2 linked regions of the Homo sapiens genome follow. The protein of the gene in region 1 purifies or fractionates together with the protein of each later gene. This does not show direct contact. Each region holds a gene or a part of one and is shown in the gene's direction. Other genes may lie near its edges.

What was found. Proteins that work in one complex are often made in the same cells at the same time.
Region 2: the proteins of ZMAT5 (region 1) and CTU2 purify together in Homo sapiens (affinity purification with mass spectrometry; 2 studies listed by BioGRID and IntAct, with this or other methods). This does not show direct contact.

What each region holds. Positions count from the first base shown.
Region 1 is NC_000022.11:29,735,001-29,740,436, reverse strand, and holds part of ZMAT5 (zinc finger matrin-type protein 5), read left to right. Parts: intron 1-1,995; coding exon 1,996-2,107; intron 2,108-5,436.
Region 2 is NC_000016.10:88,709,359-88,712,699, forward strand, and holds part of CTU2 (cytoplasmic tRNA 2-thiolation protein 2), read left to right. Parts: intron 1-579; coding exon 580-658; intron 659-864; coding exon 865-924; intron 925-2,276; coding exon 2,277-2,337; intron 2,338-2,702; coding exon of another isoform or gene 2,703-2,915; coding exon 2,916-3,025; intron 3,026-3,263; coding exon 3,264-3,341. UniProt on the Homo sapiens protein: Plays a central role in 2-thiolation of mcm(5)S(2)U at tRNA wobble positions of tRNA(Lys), tRNA(Glu) and tRNA(Gln). May act by forming a heterodimer with CTU1/ATPBD3 that ligates sulfur from thiocarboxylated URM1 onto the uridine of tRNAs at wobble position.

The sequences.
Region 1 (5,436 bases):
TGGAGCCTGTGTGGCTTCCTGCCTGGGAGCCCTGAAGGTGCACCTCAGCCCCACCTGGACCCTGTGGCCAGCCCAGCAGTCATTGGTGGGTACACCCCATCCCTTCCTCAATCAGGCAGCATACCCAGTCCCCACTTGGCACCAAGCAGACCCCTTACGACAGTCTAGGGATAAGGAGTTTAGGAACGCACCTTCCCTGCCCTCTGGAGTCTCACAGCCTGGTGATTCCAGGGAGGGGCAAGTTCAGCTTCCATGGAAACTGACATCTCGCCTTTGGGAAATTCACTCCTCTAGTTAGAGAACAAGGAAGTTCTGACTGAGATGGTGTTTATCAATCTTCTTCCACAGCCTCTCACTGAACAGGTGGGGAAACTAAGGCCAACATTCAGACTGAAAGGCCTCGCGTGAGCCCCCCAGCAGGTTGGGGGCAGACTCCAGGTCTCTCAGTGCCTGCCCCCTTAAGCTTCTCTGTCCAGGAGGCCTCAGGGTAGCCAGTGAAGGTCTGGGGCAGCTTGGCCTTTGCCCTGATCCCCCTACGGGCCTCACTCCCCTCTGACCAGTTAGACACTGCAGGCTCCGTGCCCTGCCCTGGGAGCCAGTGGTGCTGTGGCTGCAGCCCCGGGACCAACACAGGGTTTCCAGGAGCATTTTTCCCCAGGGTGGAAGCAAGGCCTTGTGGGACTGGCCAGCAAGTCCTGGCAGCAGCGGCAGCTGCAGCTCTTCCCTGGCTATGGGCTCTCAGAGGACGGCTGGCCCATGGTGGGACGAGCACGGGGCAGTGGGCCTGGAACTGGAGACGATGCCGAGCGGGGACAGGAATGGGGAGAGGCCCAGGGAGGCTGGGAACAGAGTCCCAGCTGGCAGCTCTGACAGTCCCAGCTCTGCCACGTCCTCTGTAACCTTGGTACGTGGCTTAACCTCTTGGAGGCTGTGTCCTGTCGAATGTGATGTCTCTAAGGATGAAGCAAGATGACACCTGTACAGCCCAGGGCCCGGCCCCAAGTGAGCTCCAGAGACCAGGGCCCGGCCCCGAGTGAGCTCCAGAGACCGAGGCCTGGCCCCGAGTGAGCTCCAGAGACTGGGGCCTGGCTCTGAGTGAGTGCTAGTCAAGTGTATGATTACTTTCCTCTGGCCCAAGACTCCATCCCAGATGACTTGGCGACTCTGACCCCATCAAACGCTCACACCCAGCTTGTATAAATTCCATTCGTTGATTGGTTTTAATTCGTTGAGCAACAGGTTTTGTTGGACAGCTTATGAGAATAAAAACCAGGGAAGCTGAGGCTCATTACCCTGCCCAGGGTCAAAGACCCGGCAGGTGACAGAGCTGAGATGTGACCCCATTCGACTGCCCTCACTGCCTCCCTGCACCTCAGATTCAGACCCCTCCTTAGGGCCAGGCTCTCTCTCTCTTTTTTTTTTTTTGAGATGGAGTTTCACTCTTGCCGCCCAGGTTGGAGTGCAGTGGTGCGATCTTAGCTCACTGCAGCCTCCACCTCCTAGGTTCAAGCGATTCTCCTGCCTCAGTCTCCCAAGTAGCTGGGATTACAGGCACCCACCACCACACATGGCTAATTTTTTTTATTTTTATTTTTAGTAGAGGCAGGGTTTCTCCATGTTGGCCAGGCTGGTTTCAAACTCCTGGACTCAGGTGATCCGCCCGCCTTGGCATCCCAAAGTGCTGGGATTACAGACGTGAGCCACCACGCCTGGCCAGGGCCAGGTTCTCTACAAGCACTGTCCTGTTTCCAGCTCCCCAAGAGCTTGGAGGCAGCCGGGGTTGTCTCTATTTGATGGGAAAACAGAGCGAGGCCGAGTGCTGGGCCCTCGTGCACAGATGGCCTGGAGAAGCAGTCCAGGTGCATCCTCCTGGAAGGTTGCTGCAACTTCCCAGGCTTGCTCAGGGCCTACCAGTTGCTTCTGCTTTGTGAGAGGGTAGGGTTCTGGCAGGCAGGAGTGTACCCCTCACTTGCCTTTGTCTCCCTGTCCCCACAGAGGAGAGGCGAGCCAGGGAGTGGCTACTAGATGCTCCTGAGCTCCCCGAGGGCCATCTGGAGGACTGGCTGGAGAAGAGAGCCAAGCGGCTGAGCTCAGCCCCAAGTAGCAGGTACAGGTCCCCAGGGTTCCCTCCCGCTGTGCCCCCTGGGGGCAAAACCCCAGCCCGCCTTCCCCTTCCTGAGGCTCAGGAATCTCCATGAACTGCCCAGGCCCAGGGGCCGAATAAAGTTGCCTACACATAGCTCCCCGAGGAGCCCTTGGGGCCCCAGGCCCTGGCCAGAGGCTGAGGGGTGTTTGAAAGAGCCTCTCCCAAAGCTGGGCCCCTGTTGGAGTCTGTGCTGGCTGGAGGGGAGGCAGGCGGCAGAGCTGATTTGGCTGCAAGTCACAAGTCCGTTGCCAGAGGGAGGGGCCTGGGCTGTGGTCACCATGCACTGCTGCCCACTGTTGCCTCTAGGGCCTTGCAGAAGGGAAAACAGGGAGGGTGCGACTTGCCCGAGGGCACACAGACGGGAAAATGTAGAGCCGGGATTGCACAGGCGTGATGACGAGGTCCTGGTCCCACTGCCTTTCTAAGGAAGGGGGTCTGGAGATGGCCCCAGCCCTCGGGACGCTCACAAGTAGAAGGGGAGCTGCTGGATCGGGGTCCTTGGGGTGTGTGCTTCGTGATGTCCCTGGTCCTCCTCTTTGAGGGAAGGGCCTCGGGTGATATTCACATCAGAACGGGGCACAGGGCAGGCAGGGGCAGACAAAGGCTGGCGGCCAAAACCGAAGCCTGAGCTCCTGGGCTCTTCCTCCAGCAGTTGAAGGAGGGAGGGGAGGAAAAGGGGATAAAGCTGCGCCCAGGAGCCGCATGCGACTTTGAACACGTTTTCCCATCCCGACTACCTTGCTTTCCCCATCTTGCAACGGGCTTCAGACCTGACTACCTCTGTGGTGTGGCTTCACAAAATGGTGGCCTGGCCTGGGCCAAGGGGACCTGGCCAGATAGTCTGGGGGAAGAGGCCTTCCCTTGGAGCTCTGCCAGGAGGTGAAGGCCAAACTTCTTGCCTTCTCTGTGCTCCAGTGAAAGAGACTATGAGGGTGTTTTTTTTCTTTCTTTCTTTCTTTTTTTGTGATGGAGTCTTGCTGTATTGCCCAGGCTGGAGTGCAGTGGTGTGATCTCAGCTCACTGCAACCTCTGCCTCTGGGTTCAAGCGATTCTTCTGCCTCAGCTTCCCAAGTAGCTGGGATTACAGGCACCCACCATCATACCTGGCTGATTTTTGTATTTTTGTAGAGATGGGGTTTTACCATGTTGGCCAGCCTGGTCTTGAACTCCCGACTTCAGGTGATCCGCCTGCCTCGGCCTCCCAAAGTGCAACGTGTTGGGATTACAGGCATGAGCCACCACACTCGGCTTTTTTTTTTTTTTTTGAGACGGATTCTTGCTCTACCGCCCAGGCTGGAGTACAGTGGTGCAATTGTCTCATTGCAAACTCCACCTCTTGGGGTTCACGCCATTCTCCTGCCTCAGCCTCCTGAGTAGCTGGGACTACAGGCACCCGCCACCACGCCCGGCTAATTTTTTTGTGTGTTTTTAGTGGAGACGGGGTTTCACCATGTTACCCAGGATGGTCTCAATCTCCTGCCCTCCTGATCCACCCGCCTCAGCCTCCCAAAGTGCTGGGATTACAGGTGTCAGCCACCGCGCCCAGCCTTTTTTTTTTTTTTTTTTTTTTTGAGATGGAGTCTCGCTCTGTCACCCAGGCTGAAGTGCAGTGGCACGATCTCGGCTCACTGCAACCTCCGCCTCCTGGGTTCAAACATTTCTCATGCTGCAGCCTCCCAAGTAGCTGGGATTACAGGCATGCACCACCATGCCCGGCTAATTTTTGTATTTTTAGTAGAGACAGAGTTTCGCTGTGCTGGCCAGGCTGGTCTCGAACTCCTGACCTCAGGTGATTCACCTGCCTCAGCCTCCCAGAGTGCTGGGATTACAGGCATGAGCCACCGCACCCAGCCAGTAAAGGTGTTTTAAAACTAACTTTGTCTTTTACCTTTATTTTAAATCCGTGTTCAGTTTTTGTCTCCCCACCTTAAAAGTATATGTGGTACAGACATGACTCAAACGTTGGAGTGTGACATTCTCTCCTCCTGGTCCTGTCTGAAGGGTCCCGTCTAAAGGGGTTCTATCCTGTCTTTGTGCATGTGAGCACCTCCTTTGGGACTGGTTGCTGTCCAGGGATCCACGTCCTACACCCCAGACTCCTTCAGCCCGTGTGCAAAAGGCTTGAGCTGGTTGGAGGCTGCCCAGAAAGCTCTGGCCCCTGCACCGCTACTTGGACAGGATCTCCTATGAGTCCCATCCTCACTCTGCCACCTGCTAACCGAGTTGCACCAGCCACTCGCCTCCCTGCTCTGGGTCCATGGTGTCCTCCGCTGGGAGCGAGTCACAGAGGCCCGGCTGTCTCTTGGGGCTGTGACAAGGTTTCATGGAGTCCCTGTGGCTGAACTGGAGTGAGCACCAATGGGTGGGGTAGAGATGGGGTGCCCCAGAGTCCTTGCCTGGGTTCCAGACAGATGCATCCCTGTGCTGAAACAAGGCGCTATGAATTTGAGACTTGGGGGACTAGGGTACCAGATGGGGAAACTGAGGCTGAATGACTGGCTCCTAGTCACAGGTTGAAGTGGTGACCATATGAGAATTGAGTTTGGTGCTTACAGTGTTCCCAGTGTTTGGGGGCATTCAGGGAGATTGGCACCCCCATTTTGCATCTGAGGAATCTTAACCTCTCCAGGAGGTGGGGCCATCCTGATCACACGTGCCCTGCTGCCCTTAGCCCTCACTTGAGAGAGAGCTAGGTCCCTGCTCTGTGTCTAGACCCCAGGCTGCCTCTGACACCAAGTTCAGGGCTGGCCCAAGGCTCTGTGTGGCTGTGGGTAGTGGCAGTGGCAGCAGCAGGCTGCCCTGATGGCAGTGACTGTTTTGGGAATGATTGTTCTGCAACTGGAGCCCACCTTGGCTGTAGGGGGTCTGAGCCCTGTGCTCTGGGCCATTGTCCCTCTGGCCACCCAGCCTGGCCCCTTCCAGGGGATCTGCCACCTGCCTTCCTCCTGCCTCCTGAGGGCTTGGGGCCAAAATGAATTGTTCTCTAGGCAGAGCAGGCCTGTCCAGCCTTGAGAAAAAGGGGCTGTGGGAAGGGAGGTGACCGTTTATTCCTGCTTTTGCCATTGCTGCCTTGGGCGTCCATAACTGTCTCCGGGCAGGCTGGTCTCCTGAAGCCTAGCAGCCTTTCCCTCCGTCCTGGGCTTTGAGCCCCTCCCCTGCATCCACACCCCCTACCCTGCTTAATGGGAGGGGGTGGATTCCAGCCCCAGCCCCCGCAAGGCTACCTCACTTTCTTCCTGGCTCCCTCTCCAGCCTGGAGGCAGTGCTGCAGCAACAATGTTCTTCCTCCA
Region 2 (3,341 bases), on another chromosome or scaffold:
GCCTCTTAGCCATTCCTGGCCCAGTTGAGCCCAGCACACTAAAGATGCCAGCTCTGGGGCCCCAGGATACTGAGCCCTCGCTGTGGCCCACCCCATTTCCGCACTTCACCCCAAAGAGGTGGTGTCTCTGCATGGTGGGTCCTCGCTGTGGCCCGCTCCATTTCCACGTTTCACCTCCAAGAGGTGGTGTCTGTATGTGGTGGGTCTTTTTTTATGGGGTCTGGGTTGGCCTTGCCCTGTACGTGCCTAAGTCTGTCCACTCCACCAGCTGGGCCCTTCTGAGCGCCTGTGGGGAGGGGTGCCGGGGCTCTGCCCTCGTTTGCTGGATGCAGCCTCCGTGGCTGTGCAGTTTGTACCTGGTCGTGGGAGGGGCCGGTGAGCCTCGTGTTCACCCTGAGGAAGCCACTGCCAGAGGGGCCAACCCCGCCCCTTTCACCAGTCTCTGGACAGAGCCTGGATGTGAAGATGCTGCTTTTAAAGATGGAGATTGGCAAAGGACGTCGTCACCTGGCAGCGCCTCAGGACGCTGCTCACTGTGCGGGTAGCAGGCGGTTCCCTCATCTCAGGTCTGTGTTGCAGGGACTGTTTCAAGGCCTTCTACGTCCACAAGTTCAGAGCCATGCTGGGCAAGAACCGGCTCATCTTTCCAGGCGAGAAGGTAGCGTCTGGGTCCTGGGGGTCTGACTGAGCAGCCTGGCCCCTCGAGGTCCCTGCTTGTCCCTCCCACAGGCAGCCTGGCCTGCTGCAGCCCGCCAGCTCCTCCTTGGCCTTTGAGGACAGACTCGATGTCCTAGATGTCCACGAGGTGGGGTGTCTGCCTGTGTTGGAGGTGCGGTGCCCTGAGTGATGTTTTTTCTCCCCCAGGTGCTCTTGGCGTGGTCTGGGGGGCCTTCGTCCAGCTCCATGGTCTGGCAGGTTCTTGAGGTGCGTGTTCACCACCCCGTGGGCCCGGGCTGCTGGGCTGAGCTTCAGGCTGGGGGCCTCCCTTCTCAGCCTGCTGAGGGGCTCTTGGTTGGGGCTAGAGAGCAGTCCACCCTGCGGCCTGGACACTTGGGGGGTTCTCAGATGTGTTCACAACAGGTGCACCAATCAGGAGCTGAGTCCACAGTGTGTGTGTGCGGCCCACTCTCAGATGTGTTTACAGCAGGTGCACAAATCAGAAGCTGGGTCCACAGCGCGTGTGTGCGGCCCACTCTCAGATGTGTTTACAGCAGGTGCACAAATCAGAAGCTGGGTCCACAGTGCGTGTGTGCGGCCCACTCTCAGATGTGTTTACAGCAGGTGCACCAATCAGAAGCTGGGTCCAGAGTGCGTGTGTGCGGCCCACTTGACTTCTGTCCATTTGCTCAACCTGCGTAGAAACACAGTCAGTGGAAAGCTGCATCTTGGCTCAGCCATGTGTGACCCGAGGGAAGATTGGGAAAGGGGCGGGGGTTTGCCAGGAGAAGCAAAGGGAGCAGCGTTTGAGGTGGAGGCGGCGGCCCGCGCAGGGAGGTGGAGGCGGGCTTAGGCTGCACACAGGGCTCGGCTGGGGGTGGTGGGGCTGTGCCCGTGGCCTGTCAAGGGTCAGCTCAGGAAGTCTGAGGCAGGTCGGGCTTCTCAGGAGGGCACAGGAGCGGGATGTGCTTGGTTTCTCTGCACTCTCATGAGAGGTGCAGACCGGAGGAGGCTGTTTCTGTGGGCTGGGTGGTTGAGAGGAGAGGGGTCGGCTTTGCCGGGTTGAGGAGTGGGGTGTTGGTCTCAGGATGGGCGCATGGCACAACACTGCTGAAATTAGTTTTCTGTTTTCTGAGGTCCCCTGAACCTGCCAGGAGGGTGTTGTGAGGGAACTGGCCCAGCCCTCTGTGTAACGCTGGTGCTGCCCTTCCTGTGCCCAGCGGCGCCCCTGCCTCTTGCAGGCTGTTGGTTTCTGCTTGTGAGAGCAAGTGCTTCCTTAGTGGTCAGAAGCGTGTGGGATGGTGGCACAGTGGCCCCGTAACCCAGCCCCCTCTCCTGGGGCGTTGTTGGGACATCCAGGACCAGCTGGTGAGGGGCATGTTTTACCAGGGGGATGAAGACCCCCAGGCTACCCTTTAAAATAAGTCGGGCGTGCGGCCTCGCCTACTGGGCCTGCCCGGCACCTGAGTCTGAATGGCTTTGTCCAATAAACGCAATGGCAGGGGAAGACCACTTCACCTTCCAAGATGGCATTAAATCCAGATGAAGAATGTTCTGAGCTGGAAAAGTGTCCTGTGGCTTATGGCTGGGGGCTGAGTCCCTGCTGCTTCTCCCTCTAGGGCCTGAGCCAAGATTCTGCCAAAAGACTGCGCTTTGTGGCAGGAGTCATCTTTGTTGACGGTATGTGGGGCCATTGCTCCTCCTAGTCCCTGGCCACTTGGGGTAAGCCCTGCGGATCCTCCCTCTGGTGTGGACCCTCCCTCTGGTGCCGGTCCTCCCTCTGGTAGGATGTGTTGAGCTACTGGTGCTGCCCCTGCACTGAGGGCCTGGTGGGGACATCTCCCTGAAGGAGGCAGCAGATGTATCCATCGTTAGGTGGCATCACTGTTCCTGGAATCTAAGAACATCCTTAGAAAGTCGGGGGTGGGAGCAGGAGTGGCGGCTGCCCAGCCCCCATCACGGGGTCTGGGGACAAAGAAGGGCAAGTTAAGTGCTGATGGTGAGCGGGGGCCCAGGGGCCGACTCCCCGACCCTTGCTCCTGCAGAACGAACTCCTGGGGTGTTGACTGTAGCGCTGAGGTCAGCCGCAAGAGAGAAACCCCTGCCCAAAGGAAAATGGCCGACACCCCACAGCTCCGCCAGGAAGCACCGCCCTGCGGAGCGAGGCCTCGAAGGGTTTTCCCAGGTGGAGGTGGCCCTGCAGCCTGCCCTGCCTGGCTCCTCTCTGAGCCCTGACTCTTTCTGCCTGGGTTTTTCAGAGGGAGCAGCCTGTGGCCAGAGCCTAGAGGAGAGATCAAAGACCCTGGCCGAAGTGAAGCCCATTCTGCAAGCAACTGGGTTCCCATGGCATGTGGTGGCCTTAGAGGAGGTGGGAGGGCTGTCCCTGGAAAGGGGTCCCGGAGGTGACCCCTGGGGGGCACCTGCCCGTGTCCCAGCCTCACTGGCCTCTCCCTCATCCCAGAAGGCGGGGCTGTCGGTGGGGGGTGGGAGGCACCTGCCCGTGCCCCAGCCTCACTGCCGTCTCCCGCATCCCGGAAGGTGGGGCTGTCTGTGGGGGGCACCTGCCCGTGTCCCGGGCCTCACTGGCGTCTCCCTCATCCCGGAAGGTGTTCAGCCTGCCACCGTCGGTGCTTTGGTGCTCTGCCCAGGAGCTGGTGGGATCCGAGGGGGCCTACAAGGCGGCC